7 linked regions of the Homo sapiens genome follow. The protein of the gene in region 3 purifies or fractionates together with the protein of the main gene of each other region. This does not show direct contact. Each region holds a gene or a part of one and is shown on either strand. Other genes may lie near its edges. The genes, in order: JAZF1, PCNT, ING5, EPC1, MBTD1, EPC2 and BRD8.

Region 1 (3,105 bases), on a different chromosome or scaffold from region 3:
CAATAACATGCTGGTCATAACTGTGCCAAGAAATCCTCACCAGCAGTTGCTGATTTTGAAAACAGCCACCTTTTTTCAGGGGAAGCATTCAGCAACCCTTTAAAGAAAAAGAATTAAATGCATGCTTTAAATTTTTTCTGTAATTTTGGAATGATGTATCTTTGTAGAGTTAATGATTTTGTACATTTGCACATGTAATCATCATACCCATTTTCATTACTTTGATATAAGGTGCTAAACAAAAAAAGCTCTAGGTTCTTCAGCACATTTCCCCCAAAACAAAATAAAATTGAGGGCATGTTGCATATTGTTGAATTGTATTGCGGTGGTATCAACCTGGGGGGAGGAGGGGCTGGCACTGAGATTTTTTTTTCAAGATTGTAATGTGATTGAAGTTTTCAACACATCAACTCACATATGTTCAAAACCAAAATAATACCTTCATTATCAAACTGGTTACCATGCCTTACATAATGGAGTTAGTATTTGTGAGTAGAAAGACTTTAGGTAATGGAAATATAAATAAGAAAGAATGTTTAACATAATATGCTAAAAATATTTTCATATTTAAATAACATACGTAAAGGTGTGCTTTCTGTGTTTTATATTATCTTGCAAATCCTTTTGCCCTTTAAAAAGCTGAAAATCTTGCCATCTGACTTACTAGTCATTTTAGTGTTATAAATGGCATTTTGTACAAAATAGTCTATTCAGTTCGTTCATTCATTTAACACACATTGATTGAGTGCCTGCTGGGTACAAGGGATTCAATTTATGCCTATTGATATCTGCGGACCAAGATACCCATTTAGTGAAATACTTTTTTCCCTGAAATCTGTTAGAAAAGACTTTGAAATACTTCAGTGCAAAGTGTGTGTGTGTGAAGTTTAGTTATATCTTCATCTTCAGATGAAGTTTTAAAGCACTTTGTAGTTCTCTATTGCCAACAATTTAATGTTTATGTGTTGCCAATTCTTGCAACCACTGCCCTACCAAACCTGTGGGTTGCAAATCAGAACTAAAATTCTAAGCACGTTTCAAAGATGAACACTTTTGTTAAGACCCCTATTGCCTCTTCTTCATGCTCATTTTTTACTTTTTTTAAAAGGTACTTTTCTCATCACATTGTAGAGAGGTCTGCATTCTCATTGGAAATGTCTGTTTAGCTTTATAAAACAAACACTTTGCTGAAATAGGAAAATGAGCCTTATTGACAATTAAGTGCTTCTTGCAGCAGGTGGTCAAAGAAAAGCATGACTAATACGACCTATTAGAGTAATCTACATCTGGACCATTCCTTAAGTTTTTCCTCACCGACAGTACCATCATGCCTTGAGTGTTCTTTTCTCCCAAGTGCTATTCCTTAAACACGAGAGTTTACCAGTTGCCTAATAATGCAATAAAAAATGCTTTGAGATAGCTAACTGCCCATAAAACAAACTCAAATTGCTTATAAAGTTTCTTCCCATGTTCCCATTTGATGAAAAGTCTTACATCACATATAACTGGGAAGCAGGGGTCCCTCCTCAATTTTCAGACATTTTGAAAGGATGACAGTTCTGTTTGTTAGATGAGTAAACCTCTATATTCATAAGTTCTAAAATCCTTCATTATGAGGGATTCAAAGTATTTATAAAAACACTGCCCTCTAAAAATTTCCTCAGATCTGAAGTATGGTCTTGGTCCTGAATATACAGTGTTATCCTATGTTTAAAAGGGTGATCCAGACATGAGACGCAACTAGTTGGTGCATAAGAAGGCCCCACTTGGCTATTTCATATCTACCTACAATTGACCAAAAAAAATTTTTTAGGCCAGCAATTATTATTTAGCTTCGCTCTTTCTAGTGCAAGAAACTGCAGGCTGGATCAGTAGTTCAACAGCTAAACAGTCATAAAATAGTCATTGTGCATGTTAAATTTCTTTCAATGCTTTCAAAGATAAATTCCAATTTCTATTTACTTATTCATTGTGACAGTATTACTAAACAGGTAAGGATGGGAATATTTTGTTATACTGTGTATAGTGAATGTATTGTACTGTGTCTGTGAAAACTGTGCTTTAAATTATATTTTCATATGTTTTGTTGGGGACAGAGCACATTAAGTCTGAAAGCAACAGAGGTTTGTTTTAGAACTGAAGGCAATTTAATCAAAATTCCTGTCAAGAAAAGCTGCTTATAAATGTAAATGAAATCACATTTAAAATAAACTGCCTCTGACCCAAAAATAAATATGGCTCTTTATTTTCCTTAGTGTCCATTATGAAAACCAGTATCAAGTTTACCATGGAAATTAATATATCCATTCAGTTCCTCATTCTAAGGCTGTTCAGTTGATGCATGTAGACTTTATTCCCTTACATTTTTGCTTAGATTAGATTAGGCTGTATTACTTTTCTGTCAATAACAAATTAAGCTTGGACTTACTTACTTAAACTATTTTAAAATAAGTTCTAGGCTAGTAAGATGAACAGTGTCTACTACTATAATAAATATTCCAAGGATACTTTTGGATTAACATGGTCCATAATTATTAACTCCAACAAAAATGCTCCCATTGTTGAACATATTTTACCTAAGTATATAACCTATCTGGAAGCTGAAAGTCTCCAAAGCTATTGCTTCCTAGGACTGCTGTGTCCTAACAGCTGGCATATGAATGCCTCATACTGGTTTGCCCTAGACTCAAAAAACTTTTTAAAGGATTCTAACAATATACAAACTCTGCTTCCACAAACAAATACAAGTGACGACATGATATGCTGCAGTTCACATATAGCAACTCAAAATGCCACCAAGTCTAAATATTAGGTTAACATCTTCAATAGCTAGTTTGCTCAGAACAAATGTAAACTATTTTGATGATAACTACAAAAGCGGCAAAATCAAAAGTTGGTGCTTTAAATTATTCACACGCACATTATAAAAGGGAAAGGGAATACAATTCAGAAGTATTTTAAAGGCCCAAACCAAAAAAAGATGTTCAAGATGCTAGATTAATGAAAAACTTTCACAAATAAATTTGACAACAATGAAATTACAGATCTTGAAAAATGTGTCCTCTTTCTTTAATGTTAGTGACAGTTCTATACAGCACAGACATA
Region 2 (4,245 bases), on a different chromosome or scaffold from region 3:
AGCAGTCTGAGAGGCCCAGGCGGGCGGATCACCTGAGGTCAGAAGTTTGAGACCAGCCTGGCCAACATGGAAAACCCTGTCTCTACTAATCCAAAAATTAGCCAGGCGTGGTGGCATGTGCCTGCAGTCCCAGCTACGTGGGAGGCTGAGGCAGAAGAATTGCTTGAACCCAGGAGGCGGCGACTGCAGTGAGCTGAGATCACATCACTGCACTCCAGCCTGGGTGACAGAGCCAGACCCTATCTCAAAAAAATCCTAATTAAATGAAGAGACACATTCTGTAATCGTGGATCAAAAGACCTCACACTGTCCAGATGTCAATACTACCCAGAGCAATCAGCACATTTAATGCCATCCCTAAGAAAATCCCAGTGGCAGGTTCTGCAGAAATACAAACACCAATCCTCAAATTCCTGTGGAATAGCAAGAAGCCCCACAGAGCTGAAACTATCTTGAAGAGGAAGAACGAAGTTGGAGAACTCACACTTCCTGATTTCAATACTTTCTAGAAAGCTACAGTAACAGCAGTGTGGTGCCAGCGTCAGGGCACACAGACCAGAGCAGACCAGGTCAGAGGGCCAGACATAAATCTCGCGTCCCCCACGTGAACCATCCTAACTCCAATTGCTTATCGTTTTTAGGTGTGGACGCTCCGCCGGCAGGCGGCTCTCACCAGCTTCTCCTTGTCTCTCTGCCACTTCCTCCACTGCTCCGCAGCCGCTGGGCTCTGCCTGGCCTCCGCGCTCCTCCTCGCAGCCTTGCGTCCTTCTTGCTCTTTCAACCGTGGGTGTGACTGCTCTAATTCTGCCTGCAACCACGCTGGTTTCTCCCTCTCTCTCTCCAGAGAGCATCTCAGCTCTCGTTTTTGGGTGTGCAGGGCTTCCACCGTCGACTTCAGTGTGGCACTTACCTCCTTCTCTCTCCTGAGCGCCTCACAGTGCTTCTGAGCCTCAGCCTCAAGCTGCTGCTGAGAATGCAGGGCTTGCTGCTGCACCTTTTCAAGCATCGCTTGCAAGTCCACCACCCGGGACTTCTCCTCCTTCAGCTTCTGCAGCAGAGCGTGATGGGCCTGTGTGTCCTGGTGCACGCAAGCCTCCTGTGTCCTCTGGCTCAGCTGCTCGGTCAGGAGCCGCTCGTGCCGCAAGGCCTCTGACAGCTCCAGGGTGCGGCTCTTCTCAGCCGCAAGGTCCTTCTGGAGCTCAGAGAGCTGGCTCCGCTCCTGAGCCAGCAAGGCCTCGCAGCGTGAGTGCTCGATACGCAGCTCCTTCTGCAGGTTGTCCTTGGCCGTCTGCTCGTGTTTCAGTGCCACGCAGAGTCGACTGCTCTGAGCACGCTGTGTCTCCAAAGACGCCCGCAGCTCCTAGACAGCAAACACATACGATGGGAGACACTGAATCAAGAGGAAAAGTGTCTACATGGTTTTCCTGTCCACATTTGTTTATATACTTTAGCCCAGCAATTCTACCTTTTGAAATGCACCCTATTAGCCACATGTAGGGACAACATTTTTTTGTTAGTTCATCAAGTAACAAAAAACCCAGACTGCGGAGATGACATACTTTTTTCGGAAATGGTGTTGAGTCCTGGGTTCAGAGATGTTCCCAGTCTGTCCCTCTCCAGAAAATGATTCAGAGATGTCCCCTGCCCGCCCCCTCTCCAGAAAATCACTCCACCAGAGGCTCCTGCCCCCTCTTCAGAAAATCACTCCACCAGAGGCTCCTGCCCCCTCTTCAGAAAATCACTCCACCAGAGGCTCAGAGATACACACCCAGCTTGCTAGGAACCACCACTTCCATGCTGTTGAAAGCCATAACCCATGGAACTGGCACAGACTTGCTCAGAAGCCACAGCAGGCCTGCTGGGCCTCCGCCATGCAAAGCAGAGGCCCCACCACCAGCCTGCCTTGTGCACAGACCTCTGAGGCTGTGCTCTGTCTGGATGCCAGCGAGGAGGCTGTGTCCATCTCCACAGCAAGTGCTCAGGGACGGGGGGGGGCTCCGAGCAGGGGTATCGTGCCACCACGGGTCATCGCACTCTTCGCCCTGTGGTGGCTGCCACTACACCAAGGTGCAATTTTACCTGCAAACACAGCCCTATCCTGCTACGTCACACTGCTGTCAACTGGGTGCACTGCCATGAAGAACAGGAAAAGAAGGATGAAAGAGGAGCATGGCTTCAGGCTTCCAGTGCACACAGCCCATGCCGGCTGCCTTGCCCTGACACCCTGTTACCTCCAGGGCCTTGGCACTCTGGCTCTCCCTCTGCAGGTGCCGCAGCTGCTCCTCCTCCAGCTGGCTCTGCAGGGCACGCCCCTTCCCCTGCTCACTCTCCAGCTCCTGAAGCGCGGCCTTCAGCTCGTTCTCCTTACTGCTCAGCATGGATCTGCGTGGAGACATCGCAGAACAATCTGACCACGTGGGCCAGAGTGTGTTCCCGGGGGCTGGGAGCTCCAGGAGGGGAGGCAGAGCCCTGCCAGGTCCCACACGTGTGCTTCACCCCCCACCACAGGATTATCAACCCAGGGACAGCAGGGCGCGGTGCCCCTGGGGCTGCCCAACTGCGGCCCACCAGAGGTTCTGTCTCCCTTCATCACCAAGAAAACATGGCACAACGGGGGGACTCCCGCCAGTGTCCCAGGAAGGGGGATCAGGCGCACCTCAGCTGGAGGACCTCCTGCTGCACCTCGCAGAGGGACCGGGACAGCTGTTCGCTCTTCTGCCTGCTCTCACAGAGGTCGGACTTCAAATCTCGCACTACAGTCTGCTCCGCCGCCAGGAGCTTCTGCACGCTGTTTGCCTTCTCTTGCTCTTCACTCAGCGTCTTCTGCAAGTCACCAGCAATGCACTTCTCCTGCTCTACTTTATAAGCCAGCAGTTCAACTGAGAAAGACAAAAGAACAGTAACAGGCCCCCATGAGCTCCTCGTGCTGCACAAGTGACACCAGGTTAGAGACAGACTCGTGGGGGCGTGAGGTGTATGTGCTTCGGGAAGAAAGGAGGTTCTGTGGACTAGAAGCTTTCACTGCGGGTGGAACCAGGATGCTCAATTCTGCCCTCTGGGCCCATTTCCTTCCAGGGCCCACCCACCTGGCCGGGAGACACAGAGTCCAGGAGTGATATAGCCCTGGGGCCATCCTAAAAATGCCACCTCACCCCCACTCACACCCTAAACTGCCTCCAACAGAGGGAACTCCAGGCCCAGGTGGCTTTACTGGAAAATTCTCCCAAAACTTAAGGAAGAAATAACCCCAATTCTAGACAACGGAGGGCGGAGGGGCTACTTCCCAAATACTTCCCGCACCCCGTGGGGCTGGCGCTACCCAGCACCAAGACCAAAAAGGCACAACAGAAAACAGACCAGTGCCCCTCACGAGCACTCAGACAGCACCGGCCCACCACCCCCATGCCCCTCACGAGCGATCGCACAGTGCCGGCCCCCCTGTGCCCCTCACGAGCACGTGCACAGCGCCAGCCCCCCCATGCCCCTCACGAGCGCTCGCACAGCGCCGGCACCCCCTGCCCGTGCCCCTCACGAGCACGTGCACAGCGCCAGCCCCCCCATGCCTCTCACGAGCGCTCGCACAGCGCCGGCACCCCCCGCCCATGCCCCTGACAAGCGCTTGCACAGCGCCAGCCCCACCCATGCCCCTCACGAGCATGTGCACAGCGCCGGCCCCCAGCCCCAGAGAGCACAAAGGGCATGGGCGCCGGGACAAGGGCCGTGGGCTGAACTGCAAGGCCGTTCCCCTTGACGGAATCCAAAACTAGGAACAGAGGGCACTTGCCCAAGCTGACCAAGGGCGCCTGACCCCACATGCGATGGTACGAGACCAGCTCCTGCCCCCAAAACTAAGAGCAGGGAATGGCATCTGCCCACACAGCTGACGGCACAGCACGTGAGAGAACACGGGCAAGAAACAAAAAATCGTTACTTACCCACAGATGACCTGAGCATCTACATAAAAACTCCCGAAGAAGCTAAATTAAATGTAGAAACCTACGAGACATTCCTGAACTCTAGCATGAGCTCCCAAGAATCTGCCAGCACTCAGAGCCCAACCCAGGCCCCTCTTGCCCACATCAGGCCCAAGAGTGAGGCCTCCGTGCCAGCCCCACCCAGCGCTGCCTGTCTCCAGGGTCCTTTCTGCTCAGTCCTATCAGCTGACAACCATGGCAACACTCAGGGGCTTGACTAGATGATGCCCTGTCACCACCCTCTGCTCCCAAGGCCACACAGGTGAGTGTC
Region 3 (4,245 bases):
GCACACTATATGTTGACACATAAAATAACTGACAGATATACAGAAATCTAGCTACTTAAAGAGTGGTCTACATTGGCCTCTGTCAACAACACGTTGCTCACCATCCTCCTGTCCCTAGTGGGGCAGCACACACTGTGGCTAAGAGGACAGGCACTGGAGTCAGACTCCAGGTGCAGCCCAGCCGCACCACAGCAGCCCTAAAGCCTGGGCAGGTCCCTGCGACACTGAAAATGCCCCTGACAACGGCACCCCCTCAAAGGCTGCGGTGAGGACAGGCTGACGACAGGCGCGCAGCGTAAGAATCAGAATACCACCCGGCACACGGGGTGCACTTCACTCGGGTCAGCTTCCATCAGTGTTCCTACATCCGGGATACAGGCTATGGGTATTCGTTCTTTTGGGAAAAAGAGGGGAAAGCCTCTTACCCTCCTTTGTGCTTCTTTTTCTTTGGTGTGTCTTCCTCTGATGTCCTCCTGCCTCGGCCCCGGGACCCTCTTTTTTCTTTCTGACCCCGGCCTTCTGAAAAATAATCAAGATGCAAATTATTTTTATAGAATTCTCTAAAGCAAGGCAAGTTTTGTGTTTTGTTTTTAAAAAGGGGTCTCGCTCTGTCTCCCAGGCTGGCTGGAGTGCAGCGGAGCAATCATAGCTCACCGCAGCCTTGACCTCCCGGGCTCAAGCAATCCACCCACCTCAGCCTCCCGAGTAGCTGGGACCACAGGTGTGCACCACCACACCTGGCTAATTTTTAAATTTTTTGTTGAGATGAGGTCTCGCTATGTTGCCCAGGTTGGTCTCAAACTCCTAGCCTCAAGTGATCCTCCTGCCTCAGCCTCCCAAAGTGCTGGGGTTACAGGCGTAAGCCACCACACCCAGCCTGCAAGACAAGGTTTACCCAAATATGATACTTACCCTAGTGATCATACTTTAATGATTTACCGTGACAAAACTCTTCAAAACTCCATAGTTAACAGTAATAAAATAAAGAAAAAAAATTAACAGACTTGCTTTTTAACCCTCGCCCTCCGGAGCTTTCAAAATCACTGCCCTCCATCTTGTCCTTCAGATCTGCTTCAAAGCGCGCCAGGTCTGCATCAAGCCTTCGAATGTGTTTATCCACCTACAAAAGGATACCCAAAGTCTTATTTTAAAGTAAAACCAAAACACCTCAGAATCACGAATGTACAAAAGTATCCACCAGGAAACACCTTCTTGCCCTTTAATTGAGTCTCCAATGAACAAACCTCTGCTAAAACAAGGCCCACTATTTCAAAGTCCATGCAAGGGTCTTGTGCTTTTTCTGCATATTTTGACATTGCAATGGAATAAATCCCATTTAGGGAAAAGACATGAGTGTGGGCAATAATGAGAAGCAGAGTTGTGAAATGCAGTGAACAAGGCCTGGGATATCTGACGCTGAACCCTACTTTAAAATATGGCTACCTGGAGGCCAGGTGCAGCGGCTCACACCTGTAATCCCAGCACTTTGGGAGGTCGAGGCAGTCTGATCACCTGAGGTCAGGAGTTCAAAACCAGCCTGACCAACATGGTAAAATCCCATCTCTAAAATAAATACAAAAATTAGGGCAGGCGCGGTGGCTCACGCCTGTAGTCCCAGCACTCTGGGAGACCGAGGCAGGTGGATCATTTGAGGTCAGGAATTCAAGACCAGCCTGGCCAACATGGCAAAACCCCATCTCTATTAAAAATACAGGCCAGGCACGGTGGCTCATACCTGTAATCCCAGCACTTTGGGAGGCTGAGGCAGGTCAATCACCTGAGGTCGGGAGTTCAGGACCAGCCTGACCAACATGGAGCAACCCCATCTCTACCAAAAATACAAAATTAGCCGGGCTTGGTGGCGCATGCCTGTAATCCCAGCTACTCAGGAGGCTGAAGCCGGAGAATCGCTTGAACCCAGGAGGCAGAGGTTGCAGTGAGCCAAGATCGTGGCATTGCACTCCAGCCTGAGCAACAAGAGCGAAGCTCTGTCTCAAAAAAAAAAACCAAAAACCAAAAACAAAAATTAGCCTGTTGGTAGTGGTGCACACCTGTAATCCCAGCTACTTAGGAGGCTGAGGCAGGAGAATCGCTTGAGCCTGGGAAGTGGAGGTTGCACTGAACTGCAGCCATGCCACTGCACCCTAGTCTGGGCGACACAGTGAGGCCCTGTCTCAAAAACTAAATAAATAATACAAAAATAAAAAAATAAAACTACAAAAATTAGCCAGGCTTCGTGGTGGGTGACTGTAATCCTAGCTACTCAGGAGGCTGAGGCAGGAGAATTGCTTGAACCTGCGAGGCACAGGTTGCAGTGAGCCGAGATAGCACCATTGCACTCCAGCCTGGGCAACAAGAGCAAAAGTCCATCTCAAAAATAATAATAATAATAAAGTATGGCTACTGCATGCCTGTAATCTCAGCTACTCGGGAGACTGAGGCAGGAGAATCGCTTAAACCCAGGAGGTGGAGGTTGCAGTGAGCCGTGATCACACCACTGCACTCCAGCCTGGGCGACAGAGCAAGACTCTGTCTCAAAAATAAATAAATAAATAAAATAAATAAATAAAATAAAATATGGCCACCTGGAGGTCGGGCACGGTGGCTCATGCCTGTAATCTCAGTATTTTGGGAGGCTGAGGCGAGTGGATCACTTGAAGTCAGGAGTTCGAGACCAGCATGGCCAACAGGGTGAAACCCCGTCTCTTCTAAAAATATAAAAATTAGCTGGGTGTGGTGCTGCATGCCTGTAATCACAGCTACTAGGGAGGCTAAGGCACAAGAATCACTTGAGCCTAGGAGGCGGAGGTTGCACTGAGCTGAAATCACACCACTGTACTCCACCGTGGACGACAAAGTGAGACTGTCTCAAAAAAAACCCAAATGGTTCCTCCGAGCAGATACACAAACAAAAAGGGCCCAGAAAAAAAAAAAAAAAAAACAGGGATGGTCCTACATGAAGTGTATTCCGTCTGCACTTCCTCCAGCAGCGTCAGCTACCAAAGCCAGCCTTCCACTTGGCTATGCCCATTTCCGGGCAGTTTTTACATTTTGTTGCATGAGAGGCAGGAGTAGAGGTCAGAGGAAGAGCCATGGCCCCCGCCCCGCCCTCACCATCTCGTAGGTCTGCATGGCCAGCTGCACTTTGTCGTCACTGTATTCCTTGCACTTGCTGTAGGCGTTCTGGATCTTCTGCAGGCGCTCCACGCGCTGGTCTGGAGACAGCGTCTTCACCGTGGAGATGTACTCTGCAGCCAGGATGTCAATCTCTGCTTTCTTATCTGATGGAGAAATGGGGGAAAAGCTAGCCCTGCACAAGACACCATGATGTGCTCACCAGACTGGCAACAACTAAAGTCAGCCAACGCCAAGTTGTGGCAAAGATGTAGGCTGACATGAACTCACGCTGTGCTGGTGGGAGCGCAAGTGGGCAGAACCGTTCTGCACAAACAGTCTGGGATCGTGTGAATGTGCAGACTTTACGGCAACGTGCCCAGGACAGTCCCAGCTCTGAATGTTACACAGCAAGTGGTCACAGTGCCTTCTTCGACTCTCAAACATCCTGTATGAATAACTTGTAGCCACCTTTCCTATGACCTGGCATACTACTCTTTTTTCCCTTTTCTTTTTTTCCGGTAGAGCAGTCAAGAAAGAACACACTACTCTTAAATACCCTAAACAAACCTTATGTCACCTAAAGAAATCCACACGGGAAACATTCATAAGAGCAGAAAACAGAAAACAACCCCAATGTCCAATCCTCAGTAAAATGGAGAAATAAGCTGTGGTCCCTTCAGACAACAGAGTGCTACTCAGCAACAAAAAGAGCAAACTACAGCCACACACAGCAACACGGATGATTCCCAGAGAAGGTGACACGGAGCAAAAAGAGCAAGAAACAAAAGAAAACATACTGGATGATTCCATTAATATGAAGAGCAGAAACAGACACAACTCTTAACCCTTCAGTTTAGAGGGGTAAGAAAACTAGGCCAGGCGTGGTGGCTCACGCCTGTAATCCCAGCACTTTTGGAGGCCGAGGCGGGCAGATCACGAGGTCAGGAGATCGAGACCATCCTGGCTAACTTGATGAAACCCCGTCTCTACTAAAAATACAAAAAATTAGCCGGGCGTGGTGGCGGGTGCCTATAGTCCCAGCTACTCGGGAGGCTGAGGCAGGAGAATGGCGTGAACCCAGGAGGCGGGGCTTGAAGAAAGCCAAGATAGCGCCACTGCAGTCCGGCC
Region 4 (4,245 bases), on a different chromosome or scaffold from region 3:
TTAATAGGGTCTTACTGGACAGAGCTCATTCAGACTATGACAGTGTGTTTCACCATCTGGATTTGGAAATGCTTTCCTCACCACAACATTCTCCAGTCAATCAGTTTGCCAATACCTCAGAAACAAATACCTCGGACAAATCTTTCTCTAAAGACCTCAGTCAGATACTAGTCAATATCAAATCATGTAGATGGCGGCATTTTAGGCCTCGGACACCATCCCTACATGACAGTGACAATGATGAACTCTCCTGTAGAAAATTATATAGGAGTATAAACCGAACAGGAACAGCACAACCTGGGACCCAGACATGCAGTACCTCTACGCAAAGTAAAAGTAGCAGTGGTTCAGCACACTTTGGTATGTTGACTGTTAATGATGTACGTTTCTATAGAAATGTCAGGTCCAACCATTTCCCATTTGTTCGACTATGTGGTCTGTTACATTTATGGCTTAAAGTCCTTTTCTCTTAAACAGTTAAAAAAAAAATCTTGGTCTAAGTATTTATTTGAATCCTGTTGCTATAGGAGTTTGTATGTGTGTGTCTTCATTTAAACATACCTGCATACAAAGATGGTTTATTTCTATTTAATATGTGACATTTGTTTCCTGGATATAGTCCGTGAACCACAAGATTTATCATATTTTTCAATAATATGAGAAGAAAATGGGCCGTAAATTGTTAACCATTTTATGTTCAGATATTTCTCTAGTTTTTACCTAGTTTGCTTTAACATAGAGACCAGCAAGTGAATATATATGCATAACCTTATATGTTGACACAATAATTCAGAATAATTTGTTAAAGATAAACTAATTTTTCAGAGAAGAACATTTAAAGGGTTAATATTTTTGAAACGTTTTCAGATAATATCTATTTGATTATTGTGGCTTCTATTTGAAATGTGTCTAAAATAAATGCTGTTTATTTAAAATATTCCTATAATCTTAGCTGTCTGTTTTAAAGCATAAGTTTGTGTTATTTGAAGCCTATATATTGTAGAAATTCACCATTGAATTATGTTACTACTGATTTTTGTAAAGGTAATCTGAGGACTATGAAGATATTTATCATTCCCCTAATTCACCCTGTAGGGTTATAGTTAAGTTGCTTCATAAATATGAACATTTGCTCTGATTCTTAAAGACCTCCAGAAAATGTTCCGTAAACTAATTTACTTGGTGGTTAAAAAAAAGTACAGTTGACCCCTGAACAACATGAGGGTTAGGGGCACCCCCCAATTGCAGTCCAAAATTCATGTATAACTTTTGACTCCCCAAAAACTTGACTAATAGTCTGCTCCTGACCAGAATTACCAATAACATAAACAGTCCATTAGTCCATTAACATAAACAGTCCAAACATACATGTTTTGTATGTTATATGTATTCTGTACTTCATTCTTAAAATAAGCTAGGAAAAAGAACATGTTATTAAGAAATTTATAGAGCCAGGCATGGTGGCTCATGCCTGTAATCCCAGCACTTTGGGAGGCTAAAGTGGGCAGATTGCTTGAGCCCAGGAGTTCAGGACCAGCCTGGGCAACATGGTGAAACCTCATCTCTACAAAAAATGCAGAAATTCACTGGGTGTGGTGGTGAGCGCCTGTAGTCTCAGCTACTCAGGAGACTGAGGTGGTAGGAGCCCAGAAGGTCAAGGCTGCAGTGAGCCAAGATCATGCCACTGCATTCCAGGCTTCACAGCAAAGCAAAACCCTGTTTCAAAAAAAAAAGAAATTCATAAAGGAGAGAAAATACATTTACTAATCATTAAGTGTAAGTGGATCATCATAAAGGTCTTTATCCTTGTCATCTTCACATTGAGGGGGAGGAGGGGTTGGTCTTGTCATCTGAGAGGTGACAGAGGCAGAAGATAATTTACAAATAAGTAGACCCAGGCAGTTCAAACCCATGTTATTCAAGGGTCAGCTGTACTTCTATGAAATGGAAGTCTTTCAGCTCATGAGAAAAATAATCACAATTCAGAAATCAGCTGGAAGATAAAGCTATTTTAGGGACTAACAGCTTATTTATAATCCCATTAATGTTACTGTCTTTATCACCAAAAGCCAGTTTCTCTCTACTTTTATAGTCTTAAGAATCAAAATAAAGAACTTTTCAATAAAGACTTACTTATAGTGTTAGTATAGAGGTTTTAACAGTATAAACCTGTCATAGGTTACCCTGATAATTAAGCTTTCTAAGCTGTAAAAATTCTTTAAGACTTCTCAGAAAATAGGCATGTTCCATCAATCTCCATCTTCTCCACCCCTTAAATAGAGAAGTTGAAGTGTATAACTATCCTAAATATTTAAGGATTTTATAATGCTCTTTTTTTATGAAAAATGTTTTGCTATACTGCTTTAGGCATATTAATAACAGTTGTAAAAATTGTTTGATTTGTGTTTGCCCAAAGAACATTAAAAGATGAGCATTACCAAAAGCTTAGCTGAAAAGAAATCATTAGTAACCTTGTAATTTTTCTTCTTTATCATTTCTTTCCTCCATATATGCGATACAACTATTTATTTATTTATTTAAGACAGGATCTTTCTCTGTCACCCAGACTGGAGTATAGTGGCACAGTCATGGCTCACTGCAGCCTCAACTTCCCAGGCTCAGTGATCCCCCAACCTCAGCCTCCTGGGTAGCTAGGACTGCAGGCGTATGCCACCATGACTGGCTAATTTTTTGTAAGAGATAGGGTCTATGTTGCCCAGGCTAGTCTTGAACTCCTGGCCTCAAGTGATCCTCCTGCCTTGGCCTCCCAAAGTGCTAGGGTTACAGGGGTGAGCCACTGCACCCAGCCTCAATACTACTTTTTAAAAATGAGTTTATCTATTTTTTTTCCTGTTGTCTTAATTATTTTCAATTTCTCCTTAAATTTTGCTAGATCTTCTAATACTTAGAGGATAGATACCTACAGACTACTGTAGGGTAACACTGTTCATTTATATTTGTGAATATTCCAGAGACCTAAAGCTTTTCTCTGCATACTTTATAAAGTATATTACAATGCAGCCATATCATAAGTGCATTTCACTTAATCCAACTCCAGGCCCCTGAAGAAAAAAAAAACAAAATTTAGGCCAAGTGTGGTGGCTCATGCCTGTAATCCCAGTACTTTGGGAGGCCGAGGCGGGCAGATCACCTGAGGTCAGGAGTTCCACACTAGCCTGGCTAATATGGCGAAACCTGGTCTCTACTAAAAAATACAAAAATTAGCTGGGCATGATGGCAGGCGCCTGTAATCCCAGCTACTCAGGAAGCTGAGGCAGGGAGAATGGCTTGAACCTGGGAGTCAGAGGTTGCAGTGAGCCGAGATTGTGCCATTGCATTCCAGCCTGGGCGACAGAGTGAGACTCCATCTCAAAAAAAAAAAAGAGAAAATGTAGCAGCTCAAATGTTATACAGAATTCTAAATACAATTTACTGAAAGAATATATTCTCCAGAGTGAGCCTGGAGTAGGGGAAGTTGAATGTGTTGGTCCTCTTACGGCGTGAGTGCCCGCATTGCCACTTTATTCATAGGTTAAGCATCTTACCTCATTCAGTAGTAATTGTGATTTTAAAGATAATTTTTAATTTTCATACAGCATGGCCCCCACATACAAACCAGACTACTTCCTCTGGCACTTAACCAAAGAAACTCTGATGTAGTCTGATGCCAGCAGAAAAACTGGCAGTGTTGGGCTAATTAAAACAGAAGAGTCAGGCCAGGCACAGTGGGTCATGCCTGTAATCCCAGCACTTTGGGAGGCCGAGGCAGGCAGATTGCCTGAGATCACCTCAGATCAGGAGTTCAAGACCAGCCTGGCCAACATGGCAAAACACGTTTCTATTAAAAATACAAAAATTAGCCAGACGTGGTGGTGGGTGCCTGTAATTCCTGCTACTCGGGAGGCTGAGGCAGGAAAACCACTTGAACCCAGGAGGCAGACGTTGCAGTGAGCCAACATCACGCCACTGCACTCCAGCCTGGGTGACAGGGCAAGACTCCATCTCAAAATAAATAAATAATAAAAATTATGCATGAAACAAAGTATTGACTGCATTTTGACTATGGCCCCATCACATGAGGCCAGGTGTAGAATTTTCCACTTGTAGTATCAGGTCAATGCAGAAAAAGTTTTGGTTCTTGGAGCATTTCAGATTTCAGACGTTCATATTAGAGATGCCCAAGTTGTTTATGAGTTTGGAAGTTAACTATTTTGTAAAATACAAGTCAGCTGATAAGCTTTCCTG
Region 5 (4,245 bases), on a different chromosome or scaffold from region 3:
GCATGCTGGGATTATAGGCGTGAGCCACTGCACCCAGCCCTATGTGGACTTTTAAAAGGATGGCTGTTTTACTCGTGGTTTAACCAGTGATTTTTCCAATTTTAATACTTGAGCATTAAGTTGTTCCTCTAAGAAAGGAGGAAAGCTATAACAGAGGTCTATAAAAAATAGTATTTGCTCAGCCAGTTTTCTTTCCTTGCAAGAAAGAAAAATATCAGTCCATAGTATTAGGTGCTAGACTCTTCTAAAGCCTAGGATTGAAAGAGCAAAAATGTACCATTGTAGTAAACAGAAAAAGAGAGCCACTTTTGCGTTAGACTAAGTAGGCACACCAGTGTTTCTAGAGAGGGGAGGGAAATCTGTGTAACATGGAGGAATTATTGCACTCAGCAGTATAAATCATATAGGCCAGGTGCAGTGGCTCACGCCAATAATCCCAGCACTTTGGGAGACTCAGGTAGGAGGATTGCTTGAGACCAGGAGTTTGAGAACAACCCGGGCAACATAGGGAGACCCTGTCTCTACTAAAAACAACAAAAAATTAGCCTGTCACAGTGGCATGTGCCTGTAGTCCCAGCTACTAGAGAGGCTAAGGCAGGAGGATCACTTGAGCCCTGGAGGTTGAGGCTGCAGTAAGCCTTTGAGGGCACTACTGCACTCCAGCCTGGGCGACAGAGCAAGACCCTGTCTCAAAAAAAATAAAGTTGATCATATAACCTATGCTCTTAAGATTTTTTGTACTGTTACTTTTTGTCTGCATTTTAATATTATGCTAATTTTAAATGAACTGCTAGTTAAACCAGTTGTGTTTTTTAGGTTACACAAAACTTCCTTTTAAATGGTTTGACTACCTCAGGGAAACTGGCTCCATTGCAGCACCAGTAAAACTATTTAATAAGGTAAATTTAAATGGCAGCATAATTATGTGAGGACTTATTAATGCCCCACAAATACAATTTATGTTCATAAAAATGTCTTTGCCTTGTATTAGAATTTCTTAGTGGAGATATAATATAAACAAATATAGCAATGAAACAATATAAATATTTTCTTTACCTAGGAATCAAAACTTGTTTCCAAACTATGTTTCGTTTTTAATCTGAAGGAAATAGAAATGAAGATTTTTCCTAACTAGTTTTTAAATACTTCACCTTCGTACTATGTTTAAATAGTTAAAGAATTATTTGGAATTTATGGTTTATAATTATGTTATTTAGCTAGTCGCTTCTGTTTTTTGCTTTCTTAGTGATAGTAGGGTTGTGCATTCTTTCTTCTTCATACCAATATTAATGTTTTCTTCTCTGTGTCAGGATGTTCCAAATCACGGATTTCGTGTAGGAATGAAATTAGAAGCAGTAGATCTCATGGAGCCACGTTTAATATGTGTAGCCACAGTAACTCGAATTATTCATCGTCTCTTGAGGATACATTTTGATGGATGGGAAGAAGAGTATGATCAGTGGGTAGACTGTGAGTCACCTGACCTCTATCCTGTAGGGTGGTGTCAGTTAACTGGATATCAACTACAGCCTCCAGCATCACAGTGTAAGTTGGTATACAGAAAAGGTGTCCTTTTGTAAAAATCAGCAATTCTCCAGAGGACTATCTCACATAAGTCATCTTATGAGCTCACAGGACAAGAATATACCTATGTCTGATTGGTTGCCAGGTAAGACATTAAGACTCAACAACAATATCACAGAATCAGACCATGTGTCCCATGGCAATGTGAATCCAATAGTCAATTACATAATGACTATAGAAACACAACAGTCACCAAATTAAACTAGACTTACTATTTTAGTGAGTTAAAAATTACATACTAAAAGTTTATTGGTAGGTAATAAATGCTTTTGAGTAAATAGTGGAAAATGTCTCATGTTGAGGCTATGGTTTTGTAGGAACAAGTACCCTTATTTTCAGAGCATCATGTACTTAAGTATAATGGTCTTGGTAAAGATAGTTCATATAAGTTGTATCTAGACAACTGTATCGTCTAAATTGTAAACAATTATCTAGTACCAATTTTCCCTTTTTATTTTTCAGCATCAAGAGAAAACCAATCAGCTTCATCAAAACAGAAGAAAAAGGCTAAGTCCCAGCAATACAAAGGACATAAGAAAAGTGGGTCACCACGTGGTGTTCACATACATTTTCTAATTGTTAACTAATTGGAGTCACAGTATTCTTGGACAGAAAATGATATATCTTGTGAGAACTGATGATTGTGCATTATGTATTATGCTTAAAGGTGCAGTATGCCATAAAAGGCAAACCCTTGCAATAATGAGAAACACTGATATTTTACTAACAGGAGAAATTATTACCACAGTATTTAAAGTATACGTGGTAAAGAATAGAGTCTGTGAATGATTCTTGAAATAATATGTAAAACCTACTGAAAGTTAATCCTTTTTAAAAACTTTATTTAAAAAGAAAAATTAGCAGCCAGGTGCAGTGGCTCACGCCTGTAATCCCAGCACTTTAGGAGGCCGAGGCTGGCAGATCACAAGGTCAGGAGATCGAGACCATCCTGGCTAACACGGTGAAACCCTGTCTCCACCAAAAATACAAAAAATCTGCCGGGCGTGGTGGCACACGCCTGAAGTCCCAGCTACTCAGGAGGCTGAGGCAAGAGAATCACTTGAACCCAGGAGGCAGAGGTTGCAGTGAGCCAAGATCACGCCACTACATTCCAGCTGGGCAACACAGCAAGACTCTGTCTCAAAAAAAAAAAAAAAAATTAGCAGATGCTTGATGCTTACAGTAGATGTGAAGCCTAATAAACCCATTTTTCCTAGAAAGCAAAACTTTCTAGAGTGATACTGGTAAGAAATCCAAGTTGATGGCAAACAAGCTTTACCAAATTTTTCTAGAAATGCTTTCTATACTAAAAAATTAGCCGGGTGTGGTGGTGCACGCCTGTAATCCCAGCTACTTGGGAGGCTGAGGCAGGAGAATTGCTTGAACCCAGGAGGCGGAGGTTGAGGTGAGCCGAGATCGTGCCATTGCACTCTAGCCTGGGCAACAAGAGCAAAACTCCATCTCGAAAAAAAAAAAAAAAAAGAAATTCTTTCTATACTATATTTTACCTTACAGTGAATTGTTGGCATAAGCCAAAGTAATATAAAATATATTGATAACTATGTTTGATTTTTTTTATCTTATTTCCCCACCATAGAAAGCCATAGCTTTCTCTCTTCATAAAACTTGTCATAGAATGTTTCATTCTTTTTTGAGACAAGGCCTTACTTTGTTGCTCAGGCTGGAATGGAGTGCAGTGGCACAATCTCCGCTCACTACAGCCTTAACCTTCCCTGGCTCAAGCAGTCCTCCCACCCCAGCCTCCTGAGTAGCTTGGACCACAGGCATGTGTTGCCACACACCCAGCTAAGTTTTGTATTTTTTTGTAGAGACAGAGTCTTGCCACGTTGCCCAGGCTGGTCTCAAACTTTTGGGCTCAAGCACTCTGCCCACCTCAGCCTCCCAAAGTGCTGGGATTACAGGCATGAGCCACCACACATGGCCATATTTCATTTCATTCTTAGATAAGGTTATATATATATATATATATATTTTTTTTTTTTTTTTTTTTTTTTTTTTTTGAGACAGAGTCTCAGTCTGTCGCCCAGACTGGAATGCAGTGGTATGATCTTGGCTCACTGCAGCCTCGACTTCTCGGGTACAAGCAATTCTCCCACCTCAGCCCCTGGAGTAGCTGGGACTACAGGAGTATACCACCATGCCCAACTCGTTTTTATATTTTTATAGAAATGGTGTCTCACCATATTACCCAGGCTGGTCTCAAACTCCTGGGCTCAAGCGATCCATCTGCCTGCCTTGGTCTCCCAAAGTGCTGGGATTACAGGTGTGATCCTCTGAGTCTGGCCAATTTTTATTTAAAGATATTTTTTAAATTGGACTGGACGCGGTGGCTCATGCCTGTAATTAATCCCAGCAACTTTGGGAGGCCAAGGCGGATGGCTTTAGACCAGCCTGGGTAACATGGCAAGACCCCATCTCTAAAAACAAAAAAAGGAAGAAAAAAGCAAGCTATTTAAAAAATGTAAAAGTATACTTGAGGATTAAAACTGAAACAGATTTTTCCAGCTGACTTGCCAAATATGCTCAGGTACGTGCTGATTTGCCTCATTAACAACCTAGAGACTGAAGTGGCAAGAAGAATCGAATATACTCTGTTCTAACCTTTCTGATGTTTGCTTGTTAAGTGGGAAACTTAAAAAT
Region 6 (4,245 bases), about 93 Mb from region 3:
CTGGGATTACAGGCGTGAGCCACTGCGCCCGGCCAAAAAAAGTACTATTATAATAAAAGTTATTATCTTACTGATGTCCTTATAGCAGTAACTATATTTTTTGCTGTAAAGGACATTAGTGGGACAATTGTTGAAATATGAATAAAGTTTATATGTATAAAGAAATTAAGTAATAGGATTATATTAATGTTAATTTCCAGACTTTAATAATTGTACTGTGGTTCTATGTGAATATCATTTTTTTTTGAAAATATATATTAAAGTATATAGGGATAAAGGGGCATTTTATATCTTCAACTTCTCTTGAAATTTTTCAAAAATAGTACTGCTGATAATTTATAGATGTGTGTGTTTATATTCATACATACATATATGTATACACATACAGAGAGATAAAGCAAATGTAAAACATTAACCTTTAGAGAATCTGGATGAAGATATATGAGAATTCTTTATACTGTTTTTGTAACTTTCTTGTAAGACTGAAACTATTTCAAAACAAAAAGGTTTTGTTTTTGTTTTTTATTTGTTTTTTAAAAAAAGGACAAGACTGGGGAAAGGAAAGTTAGGAACGATAATTATTTGGGCATAAAGAGAACAGAGGCTGGGGGCAGTGGCTCATGCCTGTAATCCCAGGACTTTGGGAGGCCAAGGTGGGCAGATCATTTGAGGTCAGGAGTTTGAGACCAGCCTGCTCAACATGGTGAAATCCCATCTCTTCTAAAAATACAAAAAATAGCTGGGTGTGATGGTGGATTCGTGTAATCCCAGCTACTGAGGCTGAGGGAGGAGGGAGGCTGAGGCAGGAGAATCGCTTGAACCTGGGAGGCAGAGGTTGCAGTGAGCTGAGATCACACCACTGCACTCCAGCCTGGGCAACAGAGTGAGACTCTGTCTCACATACACACAAACACACACACACAAAAGCAAAACAAGATATGAATAAGACAGGGTAGAACCTCCAAGAGGAACACTTACTGAACAGGGGAGCCATCTAAAAGGTTCTGGTGCACTTTTGAATATTATTCAGCTGCCAGCTGGCATGTAACCTCATATTATTATCTGCCTTACAATTCTGTATATCTGTTTTCTGTCTGTCATCCTTACTAGATTCTAAGCCTTTTGAGGGTAAGGGACATGTGCAATACCCTGCACAGTGTAGGCACTTTAATAGTTGCTGTCGAAAATATTAATTTTTTTAATTGAAAGGTATTATTGCTGCCTGTTTAAAAAAATGCTTAAACATATGCTTTAGATTTACCTTTTGTCATAGTAATGAAGAAGAAAAAGATGAATTTTTTAAAATTACACAAAAGGATGACTTATTTTTAATATTCGATGTGGAATACCATAATGGGACTTAGTGTAGGTTATTTTTAATATATGACTATTATTTTTCAAATGCAGGAAACTATACACAAAAGAAAAAGAGTATAACTTTGACTTTTTCTCAATTGTTATTTTTCTCTTTTATAATCCTCCAATATGAAACCTTTGGTATTCCTTAGGTTCTTTCTAATGTCATTTCAGATTATTAAATCAAGGCATGAATGATTGCTTAAGTACAGTTCACTCTGGATGCATAGATTGGAGAGGTGGTAGTGGTCTATTTTTAAACAAATAGTTCCATGCCTAATAGTAAAGTGAGGAATCTGTGGATGTTTAACAAAATAGTTTATATTAGTAATAATTTTATATGCAAATAGATGCTACTAATTACAACTGAGCCTTTTCTAGTTATGTAGCAGGGCTTTCACTTTGTATAATAATTAGTTGAAAAGCTAATAAACAGTGTTCTGAAATTCAGTATTTTTGCTAAATCTCTTTTCTACTCAGCAGTGGAGTGTTACATTTACATTGAAAATTGACAGTCCGATTTCTTGAAATGGTTGTTATCCTACTTTCAGTTTTCTGAGTTTCTGAAGTGAAGCTTTACTGGTCATTGTTCATGTTCACATAATAGTACAGTGTATCAAACCATCCAGCCCCCAGTTACAGAGCTGGAGATGGATGGATGAATGGATGAGGGGACTCATTTTGACTGTTACCTTGATCTGGACAGAACTGTTCCTCTCTGTCATTGGAAAATACTTTCCTACACGCTGAATGGACTACATTTTCTGATAACAGATTTTGTTTCAGGTGGACATTTTTTGTTTGTTTACATTGAAATTATCTCTTTATGCCATTCTACCTTTTCAACAGCTGGCAACATTTTTTTTCTGAGTGTCGAGAGATACTTGCTTGTACTTATATTTTCAGAGTTAAATAGTTATAGGTTATCTTACATAGGTTGCTGTTCAGATTTTTTTTAACATTTTACTTTTATAGGATAAATTCAGGTCTGATAAGAGTTTATTGAATAAAGCCGGAAATGTAGATAACTGTGTTGTTTATTCTTCTAAAATTATTATTTTTAATAGAATCGTAAGAATGATGAAGCCTCTTATGAAAAGATGTTGAAACTGAGACGAGAATTTAGTAGAGCCATAACAATTTTGGAAATGATTAAGAGAAGAGAGAAAACAAAACGAGAATTATTGCACTTAACCTTAGAAGTTGTGGAGAAAAGGTAACATTGCTCCTGTTACAACAGTAAAATGACAACTTTACCAAATGATGGGCAAAATGAACCAAAAGATTTTTAGGGGGGAACAGGTTAAGCTTTATGACAGTTGATATTGATTCTGTAAGAATTTATATTTTTTAAAGATTTGTGGTTACTAGTTTTTATAGATTAAGTTATCAATTTGGATTGCAGATTTTGGGAGAGTTTTGTGTATACTGTAGATCCTATACTTAATTTTGTTTTGGCAGAATCATTGAATTTTATTTAGTAAAGAACTCTAGTGATCATATTGTTTACTTCTCTGTATTAAATTTTCTATTAAATCTGAGGGAAATAAGTATTGATTTTATTTTCTGAGTAGGTAGACATTTTTCGTTTCAACTCCTTTTAGAAATGTGTGCTCTAATATAGTATATTTTCCTACAAAATTAAATAGACTAAACAAAAACAGAATTTTGTATGATTCCTGGAGTAAGCATTCTAAACATTTCCTAGTGCTTGATTATATAATATATGTAAGAAATTTGTTTGCTGTGTACCTTAGGCCTTTTTTAGTTTTTTGGTTTGTTTTGTTTTTACCAAATCCCTGTTTCTTTATTCCTGCAAATTTTATCTTTTAAAAGTAATTTGATTGTTAGCCCTTTTTGACTAGGTGACTTCCAATTAATTGAGGTATCACTTATTTTCCTTCTTTATTGTCAAACTATGCAATGTTTTCTTATATTTTTGTTACCTTTTCAAGATACCATTTGGGAGACTATGGTGGTGAAATCCTTAATGAAGTAAAAATCAGTAGATCAGAAAAAGAGTTATATGCCACTCCAGCAACTCTTCATAATGGAAATCATCACAAAGTTCAAGAATGTAAAACTAAGGTGAATATTGTCTGGGAAGAAGCATGTATGGATGGTAATGTTGATCAGAGGAGTTATTGATTTCTGCAGTTGTCTTAATATGGTTTGAGTAAAGAAAAAGTAATTAACGTGACTTTAGTTCTTACCATGAGCCAAGCACTTTGCTAGGAGTATTTATATACATACTGACCAATTAATCCTCATAACAACCCTTAGAGATAGTTGTTGCATCTGTGTGACTTCTATATAATAGCTAGTAAGTGGCAGATTCAAGGTTTCAGTTCAGGTCTAATAGTCCGTCATGTTCAATATGCTATCTGCCTCCCTAGGGAATAAAGGTAATTAAAGTCTAGTTATTATCACTAGCCTTAGCAAACCTTGCATTGTAATGGAAGGAATCAACACCTCAAAGCTTTCTTCATTGAGACTATTGAAAATTATTATTGTCATCATCATTTCCAGAGCCAGCATTTATCAATTGTTATCTACCTTGAGTGACTTTGAGAAAGTCCTGTAATTTCTGGGTCACAGTTTCTTCCTAATGAAAGAGCCAGACTCAGTGGTTATTTTAGTCACTTGGACTAGATAACTATATTTATTTGGTCCTCACTTGGTACATTAATTAAAGTATTTAATTGGGAAATATGAAAACTAATAAAGCCTTTAATTTTAAGGAGCATAGATTTAAATAGGAAACAGATATTGACTGAAGCTTCTAGACAATAGAGCTTTACTCTGTAGCAAAATTTTTTAAATGACCTAGGGTGTTTGTGGAAAATTCATCTTTTAAAAATGTACACAGTTCTCATTTTTCATGGGTTC
Region 7 (4,245 bases), on a different chromosome or scaffold from region 3:
ATCCACCCGTCTTGGCCTCCCAAAGTGCTGGGATTACAGGCGTGAGCCACCGCGCCTGGCCATTCGCATCTTTTTTATTCCAAAGTTTGAACTCCAAGCCTTGCACTCTCAGCATACCTCTCCTATTGTTTTCTGCTTGGTGTGTAATAAAGCTTTCCTCATTTTGTAGGGTATCAGTTAGCAGAGCAATCAAGCCCTTTGCAGAACCTGGCCGCCCTCCAGACTGGTTCTCTCAAAAAGTAAGTTCCCAAGCAAGGGCTCTTTTAGAGCAGTCTTTGGGTTGTAAAGTAGGTTCTCTACCAGGCCCTGACTTTTAGTTACAAAGCTTTTATACCATGATGTGGGAAAATAGTTGAGAATACCTTTTTCTTTTTCCTACTGTTTGCTAATCCATCCATGTATGATCATATTAGACCTTTCTTATTGGTGTTGCATAACAGTTAAGAGCCCAAGCTTGGGAATTAGATCTGGGTTCATTATTACTCCATCTAAAAACTTTGGGCCATGATCCTCTGTTTTTTCATTTGTAAAATAGAGATAAAAGAGTTGCTTCAGGATTGTTGTGAAGCTAATTGAAGTAATACATGTAAAACATTTAACACAGTGCCTTGCATGTAGTAACTACTTGGTAGATATTAGCTATAAATATTGGCAGTTAGGTTGCCTTTCCGCAAATGCACAAACTCCAGTCCATAAGACTGTCTTTTTCTGTGTCTTGTTTTGATTATTTTGAACTGATTTGATTATAAAGTTACTTGCCCTCCTAGTAAACCACTCCCGTCTTACATATAGTTCTCTTCTCTAAATCTTACTCTAATCTCTTGAAACTTTGAAAGGTCATTTCTTTCCAGCCTTGCTCATCACATTTTCACTTTTTTTTTTTTTTTTAATAGCATTGTGCTTCCCAGTACTCGGAGCTTTTAGAGACCACTGAGACACCAAAGTGAGTACAAAGCCAGGTACTTCAGCCATATTTCTTTAGTGGAGAGTATTTACTGAGGAATTCTGGTTTATACTTAGTTATGATACTGGATGATTAAAAAATAGCAGAAGTTATCTATGATTAAGTGGTAAAAGCAAGTAGGAGAGGGGATAAATGTTATGTTATTTGAATATGAATTTTTTTTTTTCAATTTTCCACAGACGGAAACGAGGTGAAAAGGGAGAAGTGGTGGAAACTGTTGAAGATGTTATTGTTCGGAAATTGACTGCTGAGCGAGTTGAAGAACTAAAGAAAGTGATAAAGGAAACCCAGGAGAGATATAGGTACTTATCAGAGAGAATGCCAAAAAATTGAGAAAGACATAAGGGACTGTCTTCTGGTACTGGTCAGAACTTTTAAAATAGCAGATTAAAAAACCCAGTCTACCTACCTCTCTTTCTTCCTATAGACGGCTAAAGAGAGATGCAGAACTAATTCAAGCTGGACACATGGACAGCAGACTGGATGAGCTTTGCAATGACATTGCAACGTGGGTTATATTATATTGTTCTTCTGTGCTTCTTTCTTTTTACCCTCTTTTCCCCTCAAGTAATCTGGCTTATTTCCTCCAATTGCCGTCCCTTTAGACTTGAGACAGATTCTGGAAGGGGAAAGCTGCAAAGTGGTTTGGTGGCTGGGAGGGGGGAGTGAGTCCTAGAAGGTAATATAATGGGACATTTCAGTATGAAAACATAACTTAGTTCTAACTTAAGAGTGGCTATAGTTTGCCTGGGTGAAGAACTGGGAGTTAGGCAGTATACCCCAATTCACTGTTTTGCTGGTTAGAATTCCTGTTTAGGCCTTTCTTCCAGAAAGTGCTGGCCTGGCAAAAAAAATTACTTTGTAAGGGTTCTGTGAACTCTGGGGAGGAGCCAGAGCTGTCTAGCATCTAACCCTTAATTCCCTGTTTAGGAAAAAGAAATTGGAAGAAGAGGAGGCTGAAGTAAAGAGGAAGGCTACAGATGCTGCATACCAGGGTAAGCTGAACCTAGTATGCCTCTTTAGCAATTGATTGCACAGTACTGCATGCTAATGACAGTTGGACTGTTTTGTAACATAGAATACATTGATTTAAATTTACTTGCAGTTTTCTCTTCTACCAGAATAAAAACATCCCTTAATGTCTTAAGAAGAAACTCCTAGAACATGCGTTGTGCTCAGATCTCACTAGACCTTAAATTAACTTCAGGACACAAAGGCTTGATGAGATATTGAACATAATGTTTTAGAAGTCAAGGGCCTGTGAAAAGATTGAGAATAGCTCAGTCATTAGATGAGGAGAAATTTAAGCATTTACAACTCTAGGAATACATGCTGTGCGCCAGTGAGGTCTTTCCCTGTTTTTGTTTTTTGTTTTTCCCCCAGGCGGAGTTTTGCTCTTGCTGCACAGGCTGGAGTGCAGTGGCGCGATCTTGGGTCACTGCAACCTCCGCCTCGCGGGTTCAAGTGATTCTCCTGCCTCAGCCTCCCGAGTAGCTGGCATTACAGGCGGCTGCCACCACACCTAGCTAATTTTTGTATTTTTAGTAGAGATGGGGTTTCGCAGGCTGGTCTCAAACTCCTGACCTCAGGTGATCCACCTGCCTTGGCCTCCCAAAGTGCTGGGATTACAGCCGTGAGCCACTGCACCTGGCCTTCCTGTTCTTAAAAGCAGAATATTAGTAAGTTGCTAAAGAGAATATTAAAGGATGTTTAAACTACTTTCCCACTCCAAGGACCTTTGGGATAATTAAGTAGTTTGAGATTGTTAAAGGAGTTTCTTAGTGTGAGAATTGCCCTTAGGAAAAATTAGGCTAAAAAGTTATCCATCTCTAGAAGTGTTAAAGCTTTCTAATCCAAACTTATTATGCTGCTTTAGTAATGCAACATACCTATTTGTCCTTTATTGTATAATAGCAGACTAGTGTCAAGTTTCATTTATTTAATCTTGAAGATTTGGACATTGTTCTCTTTTATGTTCTAGCTCGTCAAGCAGTAAAAACACCCCCCCGGAGGTTACCCACTGTGATGGTTCGCTCTCCTATAGATTCTGCCTCCCCAGGAGGTGATTATCCACTTGGGGACTTGACTCCAACCACTATGGAAGAGGCTACCTCTGGGGTGAGTATATTTCCATCTGTGGGAATTGATCAGTGAAGGGGCAATAAGCCGGCAGAGCTGAGCGATGAGGAAACCACTTTTGGCCTAGAGGCAACTTCCTCTCTTGATCTGAATGCTAAAGACTTAATTTACCATGTTCTGTGCTCTGAGATAAGAACGGACCTAAAAGCATTGAGGCTTTTGACCTTTTTGAGAGATAGGTAAAAAACTATTTTAAGAAATTGTTTCATACTAGTCTTATGAAATTCCTGCTGAAATAAGGGACAAAATCCTTGTAAATGTAATATTGGTAGTGGGTAAGGAGTTCATAAAAGGCAGGTTGGGTGGGATGGTTGAGTCACTGTGGGTTTGAGTGGATGAAAGAGAAGATTGTGGGGAAGAAAAGTATGGCTAAGAGCAGGAGGGATAGAGGGTTTCTGGGCAATTCCACTCAGGACTAATAAAATAATAGTTAGACACACTAACCCATACAGATTAGTAGGGAACCTTCCATAGTTTGAGAAGTCAGATAAAGGTTCTCTGTTGTCTCTTAGGTAACCCCCGGGACTTTGCCGAGTACCCCAGTCACCTCGTTTCCTGGGATTCCTGACACCCTTCCTCCAGGCTCTGCACCCTTAGAAGCCCCCATGACCCCAGTAACAGATGATTCACCCCAGAAAAAGATGCTTGGACAGAAAGCAACTCCACCCCCCTCCCCTCTGCTGTCAGAGCTCTTGAAGAAGGGCAGCCTCCTGCCTACTAGCCCCAGACTGGTATGGAGACTTCTGTGGGTGTTTGAGAGCTGTGGTGATTTAGTACTTGGAAGGGAGTGCCTGGGACCTAAAATGTGACATGGGGAATAAAAGTTCAAAAGAGGAAAAGATCTCCTAATTAAATGTTAATTTTTTAAAAATACAGTAAGTTGATAGTACCCATGGGTCCTGAGGTATCTGAATCACAATTATTTTGGTTCTCTTCTCCAGAGAACTCTTGTCAAATAAGTTTTGAACATTATAGTTTAGAGTTTCCCTTGGGTCTTAAATTATTCTCTGTGGATATTAGCTATTAGTTTTCATGAAGTTTGATCAACTGCTGGAGCTTTGTTGGGAAATGGTAGTGAAGGAAAGCTTGAGTGTAGCCTTCACCTCTATTCTTCCCTGGTAGGTCAATGAGAGTGAAATGGC

What was found.
Region 1: the proteins of ING5 (region 3) and JAZF1 purify together in Homo sapiens (affinity purification with mass spectrometry; one large-scale study listed by BioGRID and IntAct). This does not show direct contact.
Region 2: the proteins of ING5 (region 3) and PCNT purify together in Homo sapiens (affinity purification with mass spectrometry; one large-scale study listed by BioGRID and IntAct). This does not show direct contact.
Region 4: the proteins of ING5 (region 3) and EPC1 purify together in Homo sapiens (affinity purification with mass spectrometry; one large-scale study listed by BioGRID and IntAct). This does not show direct contact.
Region 5: the proteins of ING5 (region 3) and MBTD1 purify together in Homo sapiens (affinity purification with mass spectrometry; one large-scale study listed by BioGRID and IntAct). This does not show direct contact.
Region 6: the proteins of ING5 (region 3) and EPC2 purify together in Homo sapiens (affinity purification with mass spectrometry; one large-scale study listed by BioGRID and IntAct). This does not show direct contact.
Region 7: the proteins of ING5 (region 3) and BRD8 purify together in Homo sapiens (affinity purification with mass spectrometry; one large-scale study listed by BioGRID and IntAct). This does not show direct contact.

What each region holds. Positions count from the first base shown.
Region 1 is NC_000007.14:27,829,701-27,832,805, reverse strand, and holds the end of JAZF1 (juxtaposed with another zinc finger protein 1), read left to right. Parts: coding exon 1-6; 3' UTR 7-2,229; downstream 2,230-3,105. UniProt on the Homo sapiens protein: Acts as a transcriptional corepressor of orphan nuclear receptor NR2C2. Inhibits expression of the gluconeogenesis enzyme PCK2 through inhibition of NR2C2 activity.
Region 2 is NC_000021.9:46,428,644-46,432,888, reverse strand, and holds part of PCNT (pericentrin), read right to left. Parts: intron 2,880-4,245; coding exon 2,657-2,879; intron 2,383-2,656; coding exon 2,232-2,382; intron 1,361-2,231; coding exon 674-1,360; intron 1-673. UniProt on the Homo sapiens protein: Integral component of the filamentous matrix of the centrosome involved in the initial establishment of organized microtubule arrays in both mitosis and meiosis. Plays a role, together with DISC1, in the microtubule network formation.
Region 3 is NC_000002.12:241,708,252-241,712,496, reverse strand, and holds part of ING5 (inhibitor of growth protein 5), read right to left. Parts: intron 3,282-4,245; coding exon 3,115-3,281; intron 1,121-3,114; coding exon 1,009-1,120; intron 520-1,008; coding exon 426-519; intron 1-425. UniProt on the Homo sapiens protein: Component of the HBO1 complex, which specifically mediates acetylation of histone H3 at 'Lys-14' (H3K14ac) and, to a lower extent, acetylation of histone H4. Component of the MOZ/MORF complex which has a histone H3 acetyltransferase activity.
Region 4 is NC_000010.11:32,280,813-32,285,057, reverse strand, and holds part of EPC1 (enhancer of polycomb homolog 1), read left to right. Parts: intron 1-7; coding exon 8-360; coding exon of another isoform or gene 361-473; exon of another isoform or gene 474-937; intron 938-4,245. UniProt on the Homo sapiens protein: Component of the NuA4 histone acetyltransferase (HAT) complex, a multiprotein complex involved in transcriptional activation of select genes principally by acetylation of nucleosomal histones H4 and H2A.
Region 5 is NC_000017.11:51,190,082-51,194,326, reverse strand, and holds part of MBTD1 (MBT domain-containing protein 1), read left to right. Parts: intron 1-816; coding exon 817-899; intron 900-1,310; coding exon 1,311-1,545; intron 1,546-2,046; coding exon 2,047-2,124; intron 2,125-4,245. UniProt on the Homo sapiens protein: Chromatin reader component of the NuA4 histone acetyltransferase complex, a multiprotein complex involved in transcriptional activation of select genes principally by acetylation of nucleosomal histones H4 and H2A.
Region 6 is NC_000002.12:148,759,359-148,763,603, forward strand, and holds part of EPC2 (enhancer of polycomb homolog 2), read left to right. Parts: intron 1-2,423; coding exon 2,424-2,572; intron 2,573-3,311; coding exon 3,312-3,444; intron 3,445-4,245. UniProt on the Homo sapiens protein: May play a role in transcription or DNA repair.
Region 7 is NC_000005.10:138,168,059-138,172,303, reverse strand, and holds part of BRD8 (bromodomain-containing protein 8), read left to right. Parts: intron 1-169; coding exon 170-239; intron 240-893; coding exon 894-943; intron 944-1,143; coding exon 1,144-1,266; intron 1,267-1,391; coding exon 1,392-1,472; intron 1,473-1,894; coding exon 1,895-1,959; intron 1,960-2,945; coding exon 2,946-3,082; intron 3,083-3,615; coding exon of another isoform or gene 3,616-3,834; intron 3,835-4,225; coding exon 4,226-4,245. UniProt on the Homo sapiens protein: May act as a coactivator during transcriptional activation by hormone-activated nuclear receptors (NR). Isoform 2 stimulates transcriptional activation by AR/DHTR, ESR1/NR3A1, RXRA/NR2B1 and THRB/ERBA2.